Regions from separate parts of the Homo sapiens genome. Here region 1 is linked to region 2. The links come from fine-mapping of genetic effects on gene expression. A gene starts in region 2. The other region holds a variant in brackets. All regions are shown on one strand. Distances are from middle to middle. Region 1 overlaps ABCC8 (ATP binding cassette subfamily C member 8). Region 2 holds the start of ABCC8 (ATP binding cassette subfamily C member 8).

The links. PIP is the estimated chance that this variant, and not a neighbour inherited with it, causes the effect.
Region 1: its variant is fine-mapped to the expression of ABCC8 in nucleus accumbens (GTEx, PIP above 0.99). The same link has a PIP of 0.9 or more in caudate and putamen.

Annotation. Positions count from the first base shown.
Region 1 is chr11:17,417,420-17,427,560 of GRCh38, reverse strand. ABCC8 (ATP binding cassette subfamily C member 8) reads left to right here. Exons shown (of 39, transcript NM_000352.6): 16 at 407-512. Among named protein-coding and RNA genes, the nearest start is that of KCNJ11, 34 kb to the right of the region's middle. The variant G/T (reference allele first, on the strand shown) is at 3,363.
Region 2 is chr11:17,472,587-17,483,151 of GRCh38, reverse strand. ABCC8 (ATP binding cassette subfamily C member 8) reads left to right here and starts at 6,307. Exons shown (of 39, transcript NM_000352.6): 1 at 6,307-6,523; 2 at 8,125-8,266. The coding sequence starts at 6,376. LOC124902641 (a long non-coding RNA gene) reads right to left here and starts at 6,501. Exons shown (of 2, transcript XR_007062609.1): 1 at 6,421-6,501. RefSeq lists an enhancer at 7,095-7,651.

The DNA of each region.
Region 1 (10,141 bases), 55 kb after region 2:
TCTGAGAATGGACAAAGGCCCTGAGGCCATGAGGCAGGAGGATTTTCTGGCAGAGGCAGCCATGAGCAAAGTATGGAGGTGGGTTGGAGGTGGGACCCAGGATGGTGTTTCTTGGGACCACAAGGAGCCTGGGCTCATACTAGGAGCATGGGAAAGGAGAAGCGAGTGCTTAGGAAGGGTGGCGGGGCAGGAAATCAGAGAGGGGGAAGGACCTGGGGAGCCAGAGGAGGATGTTGATTTCCAGAAGGAAAGGATTAAAGAGGGAGAGGACTTGCTGGGGATTCTAGGTAGGAAGAAAGAAAACAGGGGCCCCAGGGTTGGGTGCATCTGTCTGTCTGTCTTTCTGGGTAATGGTTGTTCAGACTCCCCCGGCCCCACTCACATCTGCCACCCTCCCTCCCTGCAGGCCAGCTGACTATGATCGTGGGGCAGGTGGGCTGCGGCAAGTCCTCGCTCCTTCTAGCCGCACTGGGGGAGATGCAGAAGGTCTCAGGGGCTGTCTTCTGGAGCAGGTAATACATGTATCCTCAGGGCCCAGTGGAGGGGAAATCTCCTTTTAACCATCCTCCTCAGTTGAGGATGCACACACATTTATTGGAGGGCCCACTCTGTGTTCAGTGAGGACTCAATAAATGCTGCTAATGGATATTCTCATCATCATCACTAGTACGTATTCACCTCTTACTATGCGCAGGTTCTTTGCTAAGTCCTTTGCATGCATTATTTCATTTAATTTTTATGATAACTAACAAGGTCCATACTGTTCTCAATTCTCATTTATAGAGGAAGGTTAAACTATTTGTCCTAATTCACACAGCTAATAAGTGGCAGAGCTGGAATTGAAACTCAGTTCTGTCAGACTCTGAATCCCATGGTTACTCAGATGCACGGCAGTAATTTCCCAGTGTGGGAAATTGCAACACCAACATTGGTTTCCAGCTTGGTCCTGAGCTGCACTGACCTACACACCATAAGTGGGTGTTCTGAAGATCCAGATGTAACCAATAAATGTTGGTTTCTGGGCAAAGATCACTGTCTTAATTAAAGAGCCAGAACCCCAGGCTCAGTCAATCACGAATCTGTTATTTATACCCACCTACTTCCAAGAAGCACTTGAAACTAGTTGATGAAAGATTCATGTAAAAATCAAAACCACAATGAGATACCATCTCACACCCGTTAGAATGGTGATCGTTAAAAAGTCAGGAAACAACAAATGCTGGAGAGGATGTGGAGAAATAGGAACGCTTTTACACTGTTGGTGGGAGTGTAAATTAGTTCAACCATTGTGGAAGACAGTGCGGTGATTCCTCAAGGATCTAGAACCAGAAATACCATTTGACCCAGCAATTCCATTACTGGGTATATACCCAAAGGATTATAAATCATTCTACTATAAAGACACATGCAGACGTATGTTTATTGCAGCACTATTCACAATAGCAAAGACTTGGAAACAACCCAAATGCCCATCAATGATAGACTGGATAAAGAAAATGTGGCACATATACACCATGGAATACTATGCAGACATAAAAAAGGTTGAGTTCGTGTCCTTTGCAGGGACATGGATGAAGCTGGAAACTATCATTCTCAGCAAACTCACACAGGAACAGAAAAGCAAATACCACATGTTCTCACTCATAAGTGGGAGTTGAACAATGAGAACACATGGACACAGGGAGGGGAACATCACACACTGGGGCCTGTCTGGGGGTGGGGGGCAAGGGGAGGGATAGCATTAGGAGAAATACTTAATGTAGATGAAGGGTTGATGGGTGCAGCAAACCACCATGGCATGTGTATACCTATGTAACAAACCTGCACGTTCTGCACGTATATCCCAGAACTTGAAGTATAATAAAAAAAGATGCATGTAAAATAAAACCCTTTAAAAAGGTAAGAAAATAGGAACTGAGAAATGAAGAGGGTAAAAAGATGTTCAGCAACCTGGGCAGAGGACAACTACAGCCATCAACATAAAACCTGGCTCTGTGCCCTCTGGTAGCCAAGGGAAAAAGGGATCTCTGGGCTTTGGAGTATTCATTTAGGAATAAAAGTTGCAGCCAATCAGCAGAAGGGCAAGCTTTCCCTACCAATCATTTCTAGGGGAAAATTATTGAAGGTGTCAGGTTTTTCATAAGCATGAGTACAGAACTGAGCAGGGAGAAAGACTTTGGGCCCAATGTCTGAATATCAACATGCACCCCCGTTTCCTGCATTTCCAAGATGTCCCTGAATGGTGTATCCAAAAGATGGCAAATTTCCCTCCTCAGTGGGGTCGTGGGCTAGCAGATGAGCCCCTTGGGTTTCCCATCACCTCCCATCAGGGACTGTGATGTCTTTGGGGGCAGAGGGGTCTTTGCCTCCATTCGCCATTTTATTTGGGAGATTTTTCAACATAGCCTGACTGGGAAGGCCCAGGTATTCGGTTTGAGATCATATTGCCTTATTCCGACTGCCTCTCCAGCCTTTGGAGGGAGGAGCCCTTTTCTGCTGTCCAACTGCATGCCTGCAGCAAGAAGACAAGAGTCCCCAGTGCACTGTGAGCTGAAGAAAGTAACCAATATTTATTGGGTACCTCCTATGGGCCATGCCCTTTGCTAAGTGCATTGTCAACATGATCTCATCAAGCCTCCTACTAAGTTTAGGAGGGGAGTGTTGTTACCCCATTTCACAGAAGCAGAAACTCAGGCTCAGAGAAGTTGGGTGACTTACTAGTCAGTGTGTGGAGCAGAGACTCTGCCCATGTTCTTTCCCTCAAACCTGGTCACTGCTGGGGCCCCCAGGGCCTAGTCCTAAGGGTTATTGTCCAAGCCCCATGTAGTGGTCAGGCTGGATCTGGGCTCTCCTCCAAGGCAGGGCTTTTCCAGAAGGATTGCAGGGCTCAGACACTGGAGCTGCCCCTGCCTTGACCTGCTCAGCATGGATGTCAAAACCCACTCTGAACCTGGTCCCTTTGCCCTGCTTTCTTCTCCTCCCCCACCCTCATGCCCTCATGTGGCATCGTGCCTGCCTCAGGAGCTCTCCTTGTCCTATGTAGATGAAGCAGGCATGATTGGCAGGGGTCTGCTCTGCCCTGCCTCAGTCCCCACCTCTTCTCCAAGCTGTGCCAACCCTCCGGGTCTGACTGCTGCCCCTCTCTCTTAGGAAACCTCTGCCCCAGCCCAGGGAACACAAGGAGCCTCTCCAAGGCAGAGGACCCTAAGCACTTCTTTTTTTTATTATTTTTTATTTTATTTTAGGTTCTGAGATACATGTGCAGAGTGTGCAGGTTTGTTACATAGCTATACATGTGCCATGGTGCTTTGCTGCACCTATCAACCTGTCATCTTTTTAAGCCCCACATGTATTAGGTATTT[G/T]TCCTAATGCTCTCCCTCCTCTTGCCTCCCACCCCCCGACAGGCTCGGTATGTGATGTTCCCCTCCCTGTGTCCACGTGTTCTCATTGTTCAACTCCCACTTATAGTGAGCACATGTGGTGGTTGGTTTTCTGTTCCTGCCTAAGCACTTATTATAGGCCAGGCACTGTGCAGGCACCTCATCATCTCAGTCAGTCTGCACCGAACTCTGTGCAGTAGATATTATTATATCCTCATTTATCAGATTAGGAAACTGAGGTGAAGCAAGTTGTCCAAGGCCACCCAGCTGTTAAATGGCAGAAGTGGGATTTGCACCTAGGTGCTCAAGTGCATTGGTTTGCCACCATGTGCTCAAAGAGAAGGGGCACAAGAGCCTCATGAAGAAGGCATAGCTAGCCTGACAGTCCAAAGGCCAGCAGCCGCTGTGGCCATGACTCACACACACCTGCCTCCTCCCAGAACTGCCACGTGGGTCCTCACAGCTCTGTCCTTATCAACACTTACTCTCCTTTACAGGTAGCCTAGGCCCCAGCTCCCAGCTCTGTTCGAGGCTCGCAGAGGGGCGGTAGTGAAGGGGTCTCATTTCTCCAGGATCCTCTTTGCTCTCTCGCCCGGTCCTGGTCCAGCTTCCCTTTCAAGCATAGTGAAGTGCATTTGTTAGCTTGCAGCCAACCCTGGGAAATCATGAGAATTTGTTCCCAAGTCAACTCATTCTCCAGCGTCCACAGTGACGTATTCACTCACCCAGTTGAGCGCCTAGTGTATACTAGACCCTGTGACAGCAACAGGAGTGCAAAGGTGACTAAGACGTGGCCCCTGCTTTTTTTTTTTTTTTTTTTTTTTGAGACGGAGTCTCGCCCTGTTGCCCAGGCTGGAGTGCAGTGGTGCGATCTCAGCTCCTCACAAGCTCTGCCTCCTAGGTTCAAGCGATTCTCCTGCTTCAGCCTCCCAAGTAGCTGGGACTACAGGTGTACACCACCATGCCGGCTAATTTTTTGTATTTTTAGTAGAGACGGGGTTTCACTATGTTGGCCAGGGTAATCTCGAACTCCTGACCTCATGATCCGCCCGCCTCAGCCTCCCAAAGTGCTGGGATTACAGGCATGAGCCACCACCCCTGGCCGGCCCCGCTTTTAAGAGAGGGGAGAGAAGACCTGGGCCTTAGAAGAGCTCAGAGGAACCACAATTGACTCTGCAGTCAAGGAGAGGAGGCTCACTGCGGATGTGGTATTTGAGCCTTGAAGGATGAGTGTGGTTTCATCAAGTAGAAAAGGCAGGGATGGGAAAGGGAGGTGGTCCAGGCAGGGGTGATGGTGTGGGCAAAGCCTTGCTGATATTAAAGAACATAGTTCTGTGCACCTGGAACACTGGATGCATGGGGTGCATTATGAAAGATGGGACTGAAGAAGTGAACTTGGCTTAGATCCCATGTAGTAGGTCTGAGAAGTAAGATTTAACCCAAAGGTTGCAAAAGAACCATGCTTGTGATAAAGGATGATGGATTGGGGAAACAGAGAAAAAGACAGACAGACTGTAGGAAGGGAGGTATTAGCAAATAATCATAACACAGTGTGAGGTGTGCATTAATATTCACTCATTCCAAGTATTGATCAAGAAGAGAGGTAGGTACTGGGTTAGGAAACAGCTTGGGCAAATGCATGGGGAAATGAGAGATGTCAAGATGCATTCTAATGGCAGCCTCTTGAAGATCTTAAGTTGTTTTTGGTTCACTCATTTCGCAAATGAATTCATTTAGCAAAAGCACTATGGATACAGTGCTTACCTCTAGGAAGTAAGTTTTAGCCCAAATGCTGCAGAAGGATCATGCTTATGACAAAGGATGATGGACTGGGGAGAGAGAAAAAGAAAAGACAGACAGACTCCAGGAAGGAAGGTCAGTCTGCAGCTCCTTATAGTGGCTAGGAGAAGGAGTCTAGGCAGATACGACTCAATTAGCTTCATCTGCTGTTTGTCTCTCAAAATCTAGACATGTGCACTGCTCTGGCTGGCCCACCTATCCTGGGCATTGAGTTAAGTGTGGGGGCTGTGTGTTGAGAGTCCCCCTCCATTACTGGCAGGAACTCCACACCTCAGACATTGAGCCCCAGGTCTGCAGGGAGAAGACGTGCTTGCAAAGTGAGCTAAAAGCAAAACAGCCTCTGACCTGGCAAGCATTCCCAAGTCTGCACGCCTGCAGCCAGAGGAGAGGGTGATGCCAGGCTGCTGCTCAGATGCTTTTCAGCCATACCCAGGCCAAGACCTGGTGACCAGGCAGCCAGAAGGAGTTCCAGGAGGCACAAGGCAGGAAGTTGGGGGATTAGGAGGTGTAGAATGGAGAATGCTCTGGGGAGATGGGTGCTTTGTTGGTGCAACTATTCGTTTATTCCTCCAGTGACCACGTGAGCAGTATGGCTGCACACACAGGCTCTGCAGCCAAGCTGCCTGGGTTCACATTTGGTCTCTGTGCTTTGGAAAATTTCATAAGCTTTCTCTACCAGTTTCCCTTATTACCCATGAGATTGATGTGAGGATTAACCTAGCATGTAGTAAATATCCTATAAATATTATTATTCAATAGTGTACTTCTTTGCCAGGAACAAAATTCACCTGTTCCTCTTTAAATGTCCTCCAGTCTGTCTCCTGGGAAAGATTCTTGTGAGCTCCCTGGGGACAGGGACCATATTTTGTTTGTCTCACTGTATCCGTAGTGCTTTTTGCTAAACGAATTCACTTGCTAAATGAATGAACCAGGAACAACTTAAGACCTTCAAGAGGCTGCCATTATAATGCATCTTGACATCTCTCTCCTTTCCACATGCCTTTGTCCGAGCTGTTTCCTAACCCAGTATTTCACTACCCCTCTTCTCCATCAATATTTGGAATGAGCAAATACCGTTAGTGCATACCTCACATGGTATTATAATTATTTGCTAATGCGTCTGTCTCCTCCATGACTCTGAGCTCCTTGAGGGATTATTCCATGTTGTACCCCAGGTGCCCCATGCAGATGTGTATTTTGTGCACTGTTCTGTGTAGGCTACAAAGGAAAAGGCCTAGCACCTGCCCTTGGGGAGCTCACCCACCCAGGATGGACAGAGGTGTGCAGACAGAGCTGCAGGGTGGGCACAAAGGGTCCATCTGCTGAAGTCCTGCAGATGCAGCCCCGAGCTTGTCCCTCACGTCAGCAGCCTGGCTCCTGGTCTCAGAGAGAACTGTGTGGTTCCCAAGCATTCACTTTAGGAAGAATCACTTGCCCCTCCCTGGCTCTCTGCTTCAAGGAACTGTGACAACCTTGGGATTTGCAAACTCTCTCTTTAATCCTTAAGAGGAAAATGTTTTGGTAAAAAGTCAAGATTAGCAGATACACTCGGGTGAAATTCTTTCCCTGGAAATAAAGAATAGAGCCATTAATATCCACAGTAGAGTGACTTTAAATGCCCCCGGGGGGTCAGCAGGAACCAGGGCCCTGAGGAAAGGATCAGCGTGGGGAAGAGGCTCCCACTTCCCTGTGAGGAGCTGCACATGCAGTCTCACTGGAGCTCCCTGCTGCAATGCTGTTGCCTGTGGTGGTTGGTGTGGATGCTGCCTGCCAAGAGCCCTGATTCCCCAGGAAGAGAGAAAAAGGCTTCTCTCAGGACGGCCCTGGTCGCATCTGCCTGTACAATTCCTGGAGCCTTTGGGGAGCTGAAGTCAGGGGCTCAAGTGCCCCTGGGTTTCCTGGAGGAGGCAGGTGTGGTGAGACAGCTGACAGACAGGAGAAGGGATGCTCTGAGGAAGTGACTGTCCAGCCATGGGAACCAGATGGCCCCTGGCTGTAGTCCTGATGCTGCCACTTGCTAGCTCTGTGACCTTGAGCAGGTTACTTCACCTCTCTGAGACAGACTCACTGTCTGGACAATGAGTAAAACCCTACCTTTCCTGTCTCAGAGATTTGGCAATGGGACCCAATGACATCAATTGGAAAGGATGCTGTGGGTGAAAGGTAACCTTTCAGGACAGCGACAAGCCTGTCTGGGCAGGATGAATGGGCTGTGGAGCCCTGTATATCCTAGCTCACTCTTTGAACCTCAGTTTCCACTTCTTCCCTTTTTATTTATTGCCGGGGTCTTAAATGAGTGTTGGGGGTATCTGATTCTCCCTCTGCCTGTACTTTTGGGGCCAAGCACTGAGCTGAAAAGACAATTCCTCCTAGTTCTCCAAGCCTACAACCTGCCCCCTAACCAGCTGTGAGCTGTAATACATTCTCCAGTGTCACTGTGAGGTTTGTGCCTTCACCCCCATTTTATAGATCAGGAAACAGAGGCTCCTCCAAGTAAAGGAGCTTGCCTCAGATTTCACAGCCAATGAGTGGAAAAGCCTCTGGGATTCAAATGTCAGAGCCCATATTTTTCCTACTTCTCGCACCTGTTATCATATGCTGCCTCTTCCTTTAACCTGCAGTTCCCTCCCTTCACCTCCACCGTCTCAATCCTTCCCACTCTTTAAGGTTCAGTTCAGCTATGACTTCTTCTATGAGGCTCTACTCATTTTCTCAGATTTCTTCCTCCTCCAAATTTCTTGTAAAAATTATGTTTTTTCTCTGATTCTAAAAGAATGCACATTACATTAGAAAAGATACACAAGCATACAGAAGATAAAAACCACCTAATATCCCATCACCCAGAAGCTTCCAGTTTTTCTTTATGCATTTGCATATGCATTTGTGTTTACTTTTCCCCAAAAGTTCTCCGATACTTTGTCCTACTTTTCTTTTGACCCTTATAACTTCCTGACTTCGGTACCTTTCTGATTTGCCCTACCAGAGTGTGAGCCCCTGGAAGGCAGCCTCTGCACCCTGATTCAGGTTGCCACACATATGCCAGCTCCTAGTGGGCTGGAGGGAAGGACATGCGGTTGGGGAACTGGAAGACTCATGCTTTCAGCTGTGTGCTTCCTCCCTAGAGTGCAGGCAGAGGAGGAATCGAATCCCCTCAGCACTCTTGTAAAGACCACAGCAATGAGTGAGAGATGGTGCCTGCCAGACATACCATTCTTTACTTTTCAGCTTAAAACAGATACAAAGTTTGGGGAGGCTCACTGGAGGAGGCTTGGGGCTACACTGGAAAGAGAAGAACTTGGATTCACACCCCAGCTTCCCCTCTTCCCAGCTCTGTCACATTTGCAAACTCTGAGTCTCAGTATCCTCATGTGTAAAATGGGGATAGGGTTTATAGGGTTGTAAGGATGAGATGATGAGTTGTTTGCAAACAACTTCTCACAGTGCACAGTGAAGGTCAGCAATGAGAGCCAGCCCCGCCCTTTCTTCTTTCCAAATGATTAATATATCTGTTACCAGCCTCCATTCATTATATAGCTCTGTCATGTGCTAAGCACCATGGGGGCTGAAAAAGATGTTCTTCCTGCCTTAAAATTCCACTGGGGATGAACAAATTACACGGGAGCTGATCAGAGAGGAAGGCAGTCCATTATGAGGGCTAATTGAGCAGTGCAGACCATGTTGCAAACTGAGTTAGGGCCTGGAGAGCTTACTGTGTGCTGGGGTCCTCAGGAATGCCACAGATGCATCAATAACCACCTCTGCTACTCTGGAAGTAGTCACATCAGGAAGACTCCAGAGATAAGCTTATCTGGGCTGTGGCCACAGAGCTGGAATTTGTAAGCTTTAGGTTTCTATGTCTCATGTTACCAGCTTGTCTATAAATTGTAAATTACAGCCATCTGATGGTTAGGGAATATGAAGTTTGGTTAAGAGAATGAAATGAGACCACGAAGATTAGAGAACAGGAAAAGAGGGGACTGGGGACTACATACCCATCAGAATCTTCATTCAGTCCTGACCCTCAGCAGGAGGGGGATTTCATCAGGCTCATTTCCATCCTTGATTTCGTCCATCCTGGTTCTCCTGACAAGGGGCATTTATCAGAGTTATGGCATGGGAAATCACAGGGGAGTAATGTACCATGGCATTTAAGAGTATGAACGTTGGAGTCGGAGCTATTTTCTCCGCTACTTACTAGCTGTGTGACTTTGGGCAAGTTACTTAGCCTTTCTCTGAGCCTCACTTTCTTTATCTGTAAAGTGAGGGCGATCAGAATAAACCTCCTTCATATGGTTATTTTGAGCTTTATAAAGAGACAATACTGGCTGAGCACGGTGGCTCACTGCCAGTAATCCCAGCACTTTAGGAGGCCAAAGCTGGAGGATCGCTTGAGCCCAGGAGTTGGAGACCAGCCTGGGCAACATAGGGAATGAGACTCCTGTCTCTACAAAAAATATACAAAAATTAGTCAGGCATGGTGGTACGTGCCTGTAATCCCATCTACTCAGGAGGCTAAGGCAGGAGGATCGCTTGAGCCCAGGAGGTGGAGGTTGCAGTGAGCCAAGATCACGCCATTGTACTCCAGCCTGGGCAACAGGAGTGAAACCCTGTCTGAGAGAGAGAGAGAGAGAGAAAATACTACTATGGTGCTTATAAAAGTTCAATAAATTTTAGCTGTTGTTAGTATTATTAAAGTAAGATCTGTATGAAAATAAAGCAGATTTTTTCCCCCAAATGTTCATGTCAGAAGTATATATTTCATTGGCAAGGGGCTGCTTCTGGAAGGTTGAGAGGTATCCTGGGGGAGGGGATAGAGCACTGGCAAAATTGGCATCACAATTCAAGTCACCTCACTCAGTGTTTTTTAAGTTATCAAAATCCACAGTATGAAAAGCATTTGACATTACAGTCCACTATATTTATGCATTTATAAACAAGAGAAAAAATCACGAAAAATACAG
Region 2 (10,565 bases):
GAGCTGAGATCATGCCACTGAACTCCAACCTGGGTGACAGAGTGAGACTCCGTCTCAAAAAATAAAATAATTCAAAGAGTATAACTGGATTATTTATAACACAAAGAAAAGATAAATGCTTGAGGTGATGGATACCCCATTTATTCTGATGTGATTATTATACATTATCAAAAGATCTCATGTACCTCATAAATACATCCACCTACTCCGTATCCACAAAAATTAAATAAATAAATAAGAACAGGGGGCTTGCTCTGCAGACACTGCATCCAGACAAGTCCCCCATCCCACCACATCACACCCCCTTCCAAAGGGATAGCTTCCACTCCCGTTTTCGCCTTCTTCATCTATCCCACCCCTGCCTAAGCCCATCCCTGTATCTCAGAAGGCTGCCCCAGTAGGAACCCGGACTCTGACACCTTCTTTGCTGGATGACCTTGGTCAACCAAGGTTTTCTCTCTGCCTTATTCTCAACTTGGTAATAGCAATCATACTACCTGCTTTAAAGAGAGATGGTGACTAAGCCAGAAAATGTAATAAAAGACTTGGCACTAGGTAGGAACTCAATCAATTATTAAAAAAACAAAAATAAAAATAAATATCAGTGACCATCTTGGGATTTCAGACAAGAAGCCCTCGGCTGACCTGAAAGTGGAAAAGCTTGACTCGAGTGTCTCCTTTGTGCCAGGCTTTCTCACACACACAACCCATAAAAGAGAGGTTATTCTTCCTATTTGACAGCTGAGGCTTAGGGAGGTTGACTGGCCCAAGGTCACACAGCTGGTCAGGGGTAATGCCAGGACCTAAACTTCCCCACCACAGAGTTTGGTTTTAGGCAAGCTCTGCTCAGGGGATAGGAGCTGAAGTCCCTCTGGGGAGAAGAGAGGAACATACAGGAAATGGGAAGTTATTGAGCAGTGCCCTCGCATCACTTGGCCTCGGCCCCAGCTCTAGCAGGACCCTCCAGGCCCAGACAGCTGAGGCCATGCTGTGCCAGCCAGAGGCATCTGTCAAGGTCCTGGCTGGGCCAGAGAGCAGAGTCCTCTTTGGCTGAACTCTGAGAGACAGTCTGCAACACTGTGGCCCTGAGCAGGGAGCGGGTTCAGCCAGCACACCTTATGGGATTCCACAGCATTGGGCCAGACCCAGAGCTGTCGCCGTGCTGTTCACACACATTTCCTTCCATCAGCAGTGGCAGCTGTCTCCAAAGCAAATCACTGCAGGGTCATTTGTGTACCTGTTTCACCCACGGGTATAAGGCCCCAGGGAGCAGGGCCCCATCACCCTCGAATCTTCCCATCTGACCCCCGACTGATAACAGTGACAGAACTAGGCCTTTCTTTCGGGTTCTAACACAGAGAAAAGGCAAAAGGCACAGATACACAGGTTTCCCCAAAGGTCTGTTCTTTGGGCCTTGCGCTCCTTCCTCAGGAGCCAAAGTCTCAGAAGCAGAAAAATCCTCGATACCCCCAGGATCCCTTTGGGAAGTGGTTAACAGCACAGGCTTTGAAGCCAGGCCTCACTGAGTTTGGGTCTTTTCTTCACCAACTCCTCCAGCTGTGTCACTAGGGAATGGGGCTTAACCTCTCTGAGTCTCAGTTCTCCGATAGTTGTAACTACTAGGCAGGGTTACTGTGAGATTTAAAACACGTAAAGTGGTTGGCATATACTAAGCACTCAACAACTATTGGTGAAACAAAAAGGAGAAAATCTTATCCTCAGTAATCTTCCCAGGAAGAGAGCAGGTTTGGGGATGACCAGCAGCTTGGGAAGGGAGCAAGACTTGCTAGAGAAGTCCTAAGTGGGTAAGCAAGCTGAAGGCAAATATTGACTTGCTCTGGGTCACAATGGGCATGTTTTTTAAAAAAGACACCGTGTGGAAGAAAGGAAGAGGAGATATGAGATACACACAAAGGAGAAGACCACTGGGGGTACAGGAGAAATACGGGGGTTTACTAAGTTTCTGCTGTGAGTTGTGTGAATTACAACTTTTCTAGCTCTCTGTAAAGAGCTCAGTAAAGCTTTCATTTTTTTAAACCAATGGACTGGGTGTTGGCTGTTTTAGAGGATGCAAGGAGATGCTGAGTTTGACCTTAAGTGGCCTCAAGGGTATAGAGCAACCAGGCCATCCGTAGGAGTTACCCTTCTGCATTGTGTTACTGTCGTGAGGGGGATCTTGGACCAAAACTTAAGTGGGCAAGAGCAAGAATGTTATTTAATTTCTGTATCAAGTCCCCATCCCACTAGACTGGCAGAAAACATTAGCCTTGGGCCTTCTTGGATTTCCTTCCCCACCTCTCCAGTTACGTGATGCCAAGAGACCGGGGAGAGTTCGTCTTGTTCCTGCCTCACCCTCGCCATTCAAGTATGGCTGAGGGTCCCCTGCCTCTGTTGTCTAGAGGCCCTGCCCTGGGACAAGAACACCTTTCTTCAAAACAGCCCTTGTATGTGAGCCAGGCACAGTGGCTCACACCTGTAATCCCAACACTTTCAGAGGCCAAGGTTAGGGGGCGGGGGGGATCCCTTGACGCCAGGAGTTTGTGACCAGCCTGGGCAAAACAGTAATACCTCCATCTCTACAGGAAAAAAAAAATAATCTTAAAAACCTAAAAAGCCCTTGTATGGATTTTCTAACACAGTCTACACACAACCTGCCCTTTCTGGGTGGCTGTCCCCCAGCCACCTCTACAACAGACAGGCAGGGAGGCTGGGCACAGGCTCCCTCTCAAAAGAACTTCTCTCTCTACTTCCCTCCTCCTGACATGGGGCAGGATGGAGATGAGACAGGAGATCACTTCTCCCTCCCAGGTTCCAGTTAAGACATTTTGTCTCTACATCAGTCCTCTCTTTCACTGGTTCTACAGTCTTCCAAGTTCCCCTGTGGATACAGGCTTTGAGCACCTGAAGGAGACAGGAAAGGACACACCTTTCCCAGTCAGTAAGGGTCACCCGAACTTAGGCTCTGTACTTGTTCTCCACTATTCCATAGTATAGGTCACACCATGAGTTTTGCTTTTGTCTGTTTTTAACCAGGCCGCTGTTGATTGTGGTTATTGAAAGGGTTTATTTCTTCAACTATAACCCCACTCCATTACGTCACCATTGTCATTGTAATGACCCCCTCTGCCATGGTCACTGGAACACTGGCACTCCTAGTCAGCCAGATAGAGACAAAGGCACTAAGGCCAGAACAACATCAGAGCTGGAAGGGACTTTTTGTTTGTTTGTTTTGTTTTGTTTTGTTTTGAGACAGGGTCTCTCTCTGTCGCCCAGGCTGGAGTGCAGTGGCCCGATCATGGCTCACGGCAGCCTTAACCTCCCTGGCTCAAGGGATCTGGAAAGGACTTTTCTGAAGCTCTGCACCAGCCCCTTTACTGCACCCTGCCTGAGGCCACACCCACCCAGTAGCCGGTGAGTGTGAGAATCCAATCCCGGAAATCCAGCCCTAGTTTTCATTTTGCCAGGAGAATGGCTGGGAATTCTCAGAGCGGGGTACCCTTGCTCAAAGCAAGCTCTCAGAGTCTGACCTTCTTCCAGCCCCTAGCAAGAGAAACAAAAGGCATGGCTAGAGGTGGGGAAGCACCAGAGACCCAGCATCTCCCCGACAGAGGCAGACGTAGCCCTGTTACAGACATGAATGATTTTGTATGCCACACACCGCTCTGCGTCTGTGTCTTGGACATCTTCCCCTGCCAGTAAGCATAACTCTATTCTCTGCGCTTGCTCCACAGTATCCCACAGTACAGACAATATCTGTTTTTTGTCTGTTTGGGTTTTGTCTGTTTGAACCAGCCCCATACTGATGAGCATTTGGGTTGATTCCAGGAATACAACCCATATACTACAAAGGAAGTCCTTTCATGCCTCCGTGCGCACCTGACTCCACACTTTTTCAAAGTAATTCTCCCACCCACATGGTGGGCAGTGTGGTGCATGTCCTCAGTGTAGACCTAGGTGCAGGGAAAGGTGGAATTTGTCCACAGTCACACAGTAAGTTTGTGCTAGAGATGGCAAACACGAGTCCCCAAGACTCCAGACTTAACACTCTCTTAGTCCCAGTTGATGCTCCCTTAACACCAGACTTTTTGTTTGTTTCAAATGACCCAGAATAGGCAAGTGTGAGGGTTGCACCAGGCAATGTGGGGTGAGGGAGAGACCATTAAATAACCCTGATTGATCAAGGGGCTGCCGTGTGTAGTCACCCATGGGATGAAGTAGCTTGGACTATCTCCCCAACTTGCAAAGCACATTCATACCCATGATCTCATCTTAATCTTCTGGGTTCCATATTATTATCTTTTCCATTTAGAAATAAGGAAACTGAAGTGCAGAATGGTAACCTGCCCCCAAATCACACAACTAGTAGTAGTAGAGCCAGGACTAGGAGCCCTGTTCTTTAAAAGTAAATATATTATTACTGCTAAAAAGAAAGATAGCATTGCTGAAAGTGTGAAAAAACTGAAATTGTAACTACAAAAGAAAATAACAACATTGCAGAAAATATGAAAAAAAAAAACCTTGAAAGCAAGAAAAACAAACTAAAAGAAAAAATCTTACTGGGTGACCATGGACCTGTCATCTCATCTCTCTGAACCTCAGTTGTCTCATTTTTAAAGAAAGGGAATGAGGATAAGCACAGCGACGGCAGCCAGTACATACTGAGCACCGCCTTACCAAATTTCCAAGTCTGACCTTTCCCTGCAGGCTTCATGCAAGTATACATATTTCGTACGGCTATAATCATGGGAAGCACAATTTTGTTTGCCGTTTTTCACCTGACACTATCTTGTAAAGTTTTTCTATTGACTACACAGACTCAGCTAGCACCGTCCCAGCAGTTGCATTTTTCAAGGTTGATTAACCCCTGTCCCTGGTGCTGGATATTTCTTGCCACCAAGTTTTCACTATTTTGGCTGATGCTGCAAGAAACATCTTTTGGCTTCTGAGAAATTCTCCAAAGTCAGAGACTGAGGCATTCAGACCCTGAACTCCTGCTTTCCCAAGGCTTTTCACCCAACCCCATCTGCCCTCTGCCTCAGGGCCTGGGCAGAGCCTCGGCCTTGCTGACAGCGTGCTGGAGAGGCTCACCAGGCTCAGCAGCCTCAGGGCAGGCTCAGTGAAGCTTGTAGGCAAAGGGGCTGAAGGGGTCTTTCTTTTGTGTTCCCCTGACTGTTCCTAAGAACATGTGCATTTATGCTTCATACCCTAACTAGGAAAGTTCTCCTTAAATCTAACCCCCAAATCCCATCTTCTGTTCTTTCTACATACAATATAAACTTCTTTGGGCCACAGTCTTGTGAGAATCTCTCCAAAACGTATAGGAAGACATAATGTTGTCTTTACAATTGCACGGTGTCCTCCAACTGTTAAGCCTGTCCCAGGTGAGGTTAAGAATTTCAGTCCCTCTCCACTGCCTCACATCCATCTGGCCAGATGCGTTTCTTAAACTCCTCTTTATCAGCCTGGGGCTGTCACCCATTCTACCCATTGGTCTGCCAGTCGCTGTAAGGTTGTCATGTACCAGAGGCATGAGTACAAATGATGGGGGTGGGGACGGGGGACCTGAGGAGCTGGGTTCAAGCTATGCTTCCCTGCTTGCTGGCACTGAGACCTTGGGGGAAGTCATGTTACTGGCCTCCCTTCAGCTCCCTCGCAGCTTGGGTTTCCCCATCAGAAAATTGGAAGCGATTAGAACCTGTACTTAGCAAGAGTTCTGGGACATCCCTTGTGTGAAAGTGCCAGATACGCTGTAAAGCAGTACCTAGGAGTGCCCCACCTGGGACCACTTTTGAAAATGTCCAAGCCCCACCCCACCACCACCACCACCACAAGGTAACGTTCTGCCCCACTTTTCTCATCCATGTTGGGTGGAGACTTGCGCCATCCCTCGGCTCTCTACATCCATCCGCACCACGCCCAGGTGAACTCACACTCGGGACCCTGAACCCGCCCACTCCAGGCCTTGCGGGCCCTTCTCTCCTCTTCTGCACGCCCCACCCTCCTTTCCCACCCAGACTCCAGTGTGCCCACACCCCACTCCCCATCTTAGCCTGCCTTTCCCCTCTCCCCCAGCGCACGCGTGCATCAGGGCACTCACGAAGCCACCCCGGCAACATCTGGGAGCACGCGCCTCCACATCTGGAAGGTGGGCGCAAGCGTAGCAGGGCCGGTCGGGTTCCTCGCCGCCCCCCGGCCCCGCAGGTGGTGGAGCAGGGCGGGGTGAGGGAGGGGGAGGCCAGCGGGGCTGGGCGGGGCCCGGGGGGCGGGGGCCTGACGGCCGGGCCGGGCGGCGGAGCTGCAAGGGACAGAGGCGCGGCAGGCGCGCGGAGCCAGCGGAGCCAGCTGAGCCCGAGCCCAGCCCGCGCCCGCGCCGCCATGCCCCTGGCCTTCTGCGGCAGCGAGAACCACTCGGCCGCCTACCGGGTGGACCAGGGGGTCCTCAACAACGGCTGCTTTGTGGACGCGCTCAACGTGGTGCCGCACGTCTTCCTACTCTTCATCACCTTCCCCATCCTCTTCATTGGTGAGTGCGCGCAGCGAGCCGCGGAGGAGGGGACGGGAGAGCAGGGAGGGAGGAGGAGGCGCTGCGCGCCGCACCGCTCGGCGTCCCCTTCCGGCCCGCGACCGCCGTCCGCCTCGTTCCCGGGGTCCCCTGCCCTGTGTCCTGCCCGCCGGTCCCCGCACTCGCACACCAGCTCATCCCTTCACTCCCCCGGTGCCCCCGATCCCGCGCCAAACACAGCGGACGTTTGTGACCCATGGGATCACCAAGTTTTGCTTCTGCAGGGCCAAGAGCTGGGATGGGGAAAAGGGAAAGAGGAGGTCTCAGCACGCAGTGGGAAACTGGAGAGGGGTCGGGCCTCACCCTCCGTGGCGCAGCTTAGGGAGCCGGGTCACCCCTCCCGCAAGGCAGCCTCCCTGTCAGCCGCAGCTGGGCCTAGGGAAGAGGGAAGCCTGTGCTTTGGAGTCTGGGATGGAGGCCCAGCTAACCCCTATGCTTTCACCGGGCTGAGCCGCGCAGTGGTCCGTGATCTCTGACAGTCCCAGGCCCGCGCCCTGGGCGAGGAGAGGCGAGAGCTAGGGACTTGGATTCCCTTCCCCCGCCACCCCACCCGGGCATGTGTCTCCAGAGCGCAACTTCTCAGGCTCTGCGCAAAGTAGCTCCGACTCGCCGACGCAGCGACCCCGGCGCCCTTGCTTGCAAAGTTGGGCGCCACGGCCGGGACAATCGTGCGTGCCTCTCCACTGAGGTCCCCCCCATCTCTCTCCAAGACCTTGACTCTTCCAGACCAGTCAAGTCTATCAACTCATAGGGTGTCCCCTGCATCCCCAAAACGTGTTCATTCACTTTAAGAAAACAAGCAAATCTTAAAATTCATATACAGCTTTGGGGAAGAAAGGAAAGATTGTCACAAAATTAGATTTACAAGAGGTTGCTGCAGAAGCAGAGTTGCTAGTTATTAACAAAGACAGTTAGATAGAAATAGAAATAAAACATACAAAATATGTGCTCATATGTGCATCAAAAATCAAAAAAGAACAGCATTTACACTTCTGTTCTCAGCCAAACGGTTTATTAACCTGATGACTTGTCACACAAGAAGTTAGTATGTATAATGGGGTACCTTGGCAGGGCACAGTGGCTTACATCTGTAATCTCAGCATTTTGGTGGGCTGTGACAGGAAGACTGCTTGAGTCCAGGAGTTCGAGACCAGCCTGGGCAACATAGTGAGACCCCCCCCGCCCTTTCTACAAAAAATTAAAAATTAGCTGAGCATGGTGATGTGCGCCTGTAGTCCCAGCTACTCAGGAGGCTGAGGCGGGAGGATCACTTGAGCCTAGGAGATCAAGGCTGTAGTGAGCCGTGATCGTGGCACTGCACTCCAGCAGAGGCAACAGAGCAAGACCCTGTCTCAGTAAAAAGGTGTGGTGGGGGAGGTACCAGCATAGGACCAGGCTGAATGAGTTGGACGTTTAGTTTGTGTGTACCAGCCTTGGGGATCCTCATGTGTAGGTGTCACCCTCACCATGGACCCAATGCCCAAGCACCTTTCTGGGGTTCATGCACCCTCTTCCTCCTCCAAGTGGGCAGGCATCCTGCCTCTGACTGTCTCTCCCTGCAGGATGGGGAAGTCAGAGCTCCAAGGTGCACATCCACCACAGCACATGGCTTCATTTCCCTGGGCACAACCTGCGGTGGATCCTGACCTTCATGCTGCTCTTCGTCCTGGTGTGTGAGATTGCAGAGGGCATCCTGTCTGATGGGTGAGTGACTGTCTGAGGACTCAGGAAAGTGAATCTGCTCCAGGGTACTTCCTGAAAGGCCCAAGGAGATCCTAGCTCACCTATATTCCACAAGCCCATGTCTTTTGTTACTACATCCAGCAGCTCAGTGTCTTCTATGTGCCAACCTCTCTGAGCTGGGCACTGGACGCAAGTGAGTCCCAGGCCCTGCCATCAGTCCAGGAGAGCAGAGGGAACACGGACCTGCATGCCAAGTCCCAGTGAAATAATGCTAGAGCCTATTAGAATGCCACAACTCCAGTGAAAAATGTCTGGCCTCTTCTACAACCTGCCGGAGTTACCTTCTTGGAAAAAAAAAAAAATCTAACCATGCCACCCACTCTTGCATAAGACCTTTCCTTGGTTCTCAGCTGTTTTGAAGATGTGGTCTCAGATCCTCAGCCCACCATTCAAGGTCTTCACAGTCAGCCCCACCTATCTCTGGCCTCATTCCCCATGCCCACCTTCCGTTTGGGCCTCACAGCACACTCCTCACACCTCTGCTACAGCACAGATCACACTGTATGTTAAAGTTTATGTCTATTTGCAAAACTGTCTTCAGAGTCAGAAAGGCCTAAGAGTTAGAATCTGAGTCTTGTTCATCTTTGTGTTCACAGTGCAAGGCATGTGATAAACATAAACATTATTCAGTCCATAAACATTTATTGGGTCCTTAGGAGAATGAATGAAACCATGTTACAAATAAGTACTCTGGGAGGTGAGAGGAAGGCAGAATTGGGCAAGCTCCATGGTTGAGAGGGCTTTGGAGCGGAGTCTGGAAGGGTGACTAGGCTTCAGACACACAGAGGAGGAAGGAGAGAGAGAACTGGTGGTGCCTGAGGGAAGGGAAAAGGCACCAAAGAGAAAAGCAGGTAGGGCTAGGGAGCAGCGCAGGGGCTGGAGCATTAAACACAGGCTGGGGAGCGATGGAGGCTGAGGCTGGGAACCCAGGTTGGGGCATCTCAGGAGGACTGTGAATCCCAGCCTGCATGTTTGGGTCGGATTTGGTCAGCAGTTTGGAACAGAAGAGAGATGTCATCAGCATAACACTTTTAGGTGGGAACCTGAGGTGTTCAGCGCAGGCTGGAGGCAGGGAGAATCTAGAGGTATAATAGAAGCAGGACTTAGCATTGACTGCAGTAGTCTAGGTGAGCAATAACTGCAGACAGAAATGGTGTGTCAGCAGTCAGGGACAGAAGAGGAGCGGGAGCAGCCATCTCACTAAGGAAGAATCCAGTAACCAGCAAGGATGAGAGACTGCCAGGAGAGGGAGTGGTGGAGGAGAGGGATATTTGGCTTGAGTATCTGAGGTCCAGCGCCCCCTGAGCTGGAATCAGATTATACCCAGACTGCACTCCTGCAGTGCTGCCTGGCTCCTGTAGTTGGATGGCAGGGGATAGGCTCCCTCATCCTCCCTCCCGTTCCCCACCTTCCCTTCCCCAATGTCCCTGCATCCTGGCTTCAGCAGTGATCTCTAAAATACCTGCTTGACTTGGAGGCAGCAGCTCTGCCTGCTTATTAAAGTCCCTAGACCAGCAAGAAGACCAGAAGGCATACTGCTACACAAGCACGTGACAAGTCCGCCTCCACCCCCACCCCTACACCCCTTCCAAAGTAGCACAAATGCCACAGTGAGCCCTCAGATGGGAAATACTCACCAGATGGTGACAGAGAAAGACACCTCCGCCCTTGGAGAAGGAAGACCTGGGTCTTCAGTGAGCACTGCTGCTGTGTACCAGCTATGGGACTTTGCACAAGTCATTCAGGCTTTCTGGGCCTCATAAGCATTTATAAACATACGATAAAACATTTTAGTTGCCAACTTAAAAATGTGTGAGAAAGTATAAGGTGTTTCAAAATTATTTCAAGGAGTAAAGAGGCAAGAGTTTTGAAGATCCCTGGGCAGGGTGTTGGCTGTTCCCAGTGTGGCCATTCATGACTGCTCTCTGGCCTTATGAAACAAGCATCATAGTCCCTGGCTTGCCTGCTTCATGGGGCTGTGGAGGGTGAAATTCGAGCATGGACAGGGTGCAGAGCCCGGAGTGGCAGAGCACTGGGTAGACTGTGTATTCCCAGAATGTGGGAAACTGGAATGAATCGGTCCAGGGATGCCCTCCTGCTGGCTGTCAGCAGCCCCTCCTGTGTGTGGCTGTACTGCTTCAGCTCAGTGCAAAGGGCCATCTCCTCCCCAGGGCACAGATCAGCTCAAGCTGAGTAATTGTCATCTGGTCTTTGTGAGCTCCTACCCCCAGGCCTGAGTGAGGGGCAGGAAAAGAGCAGA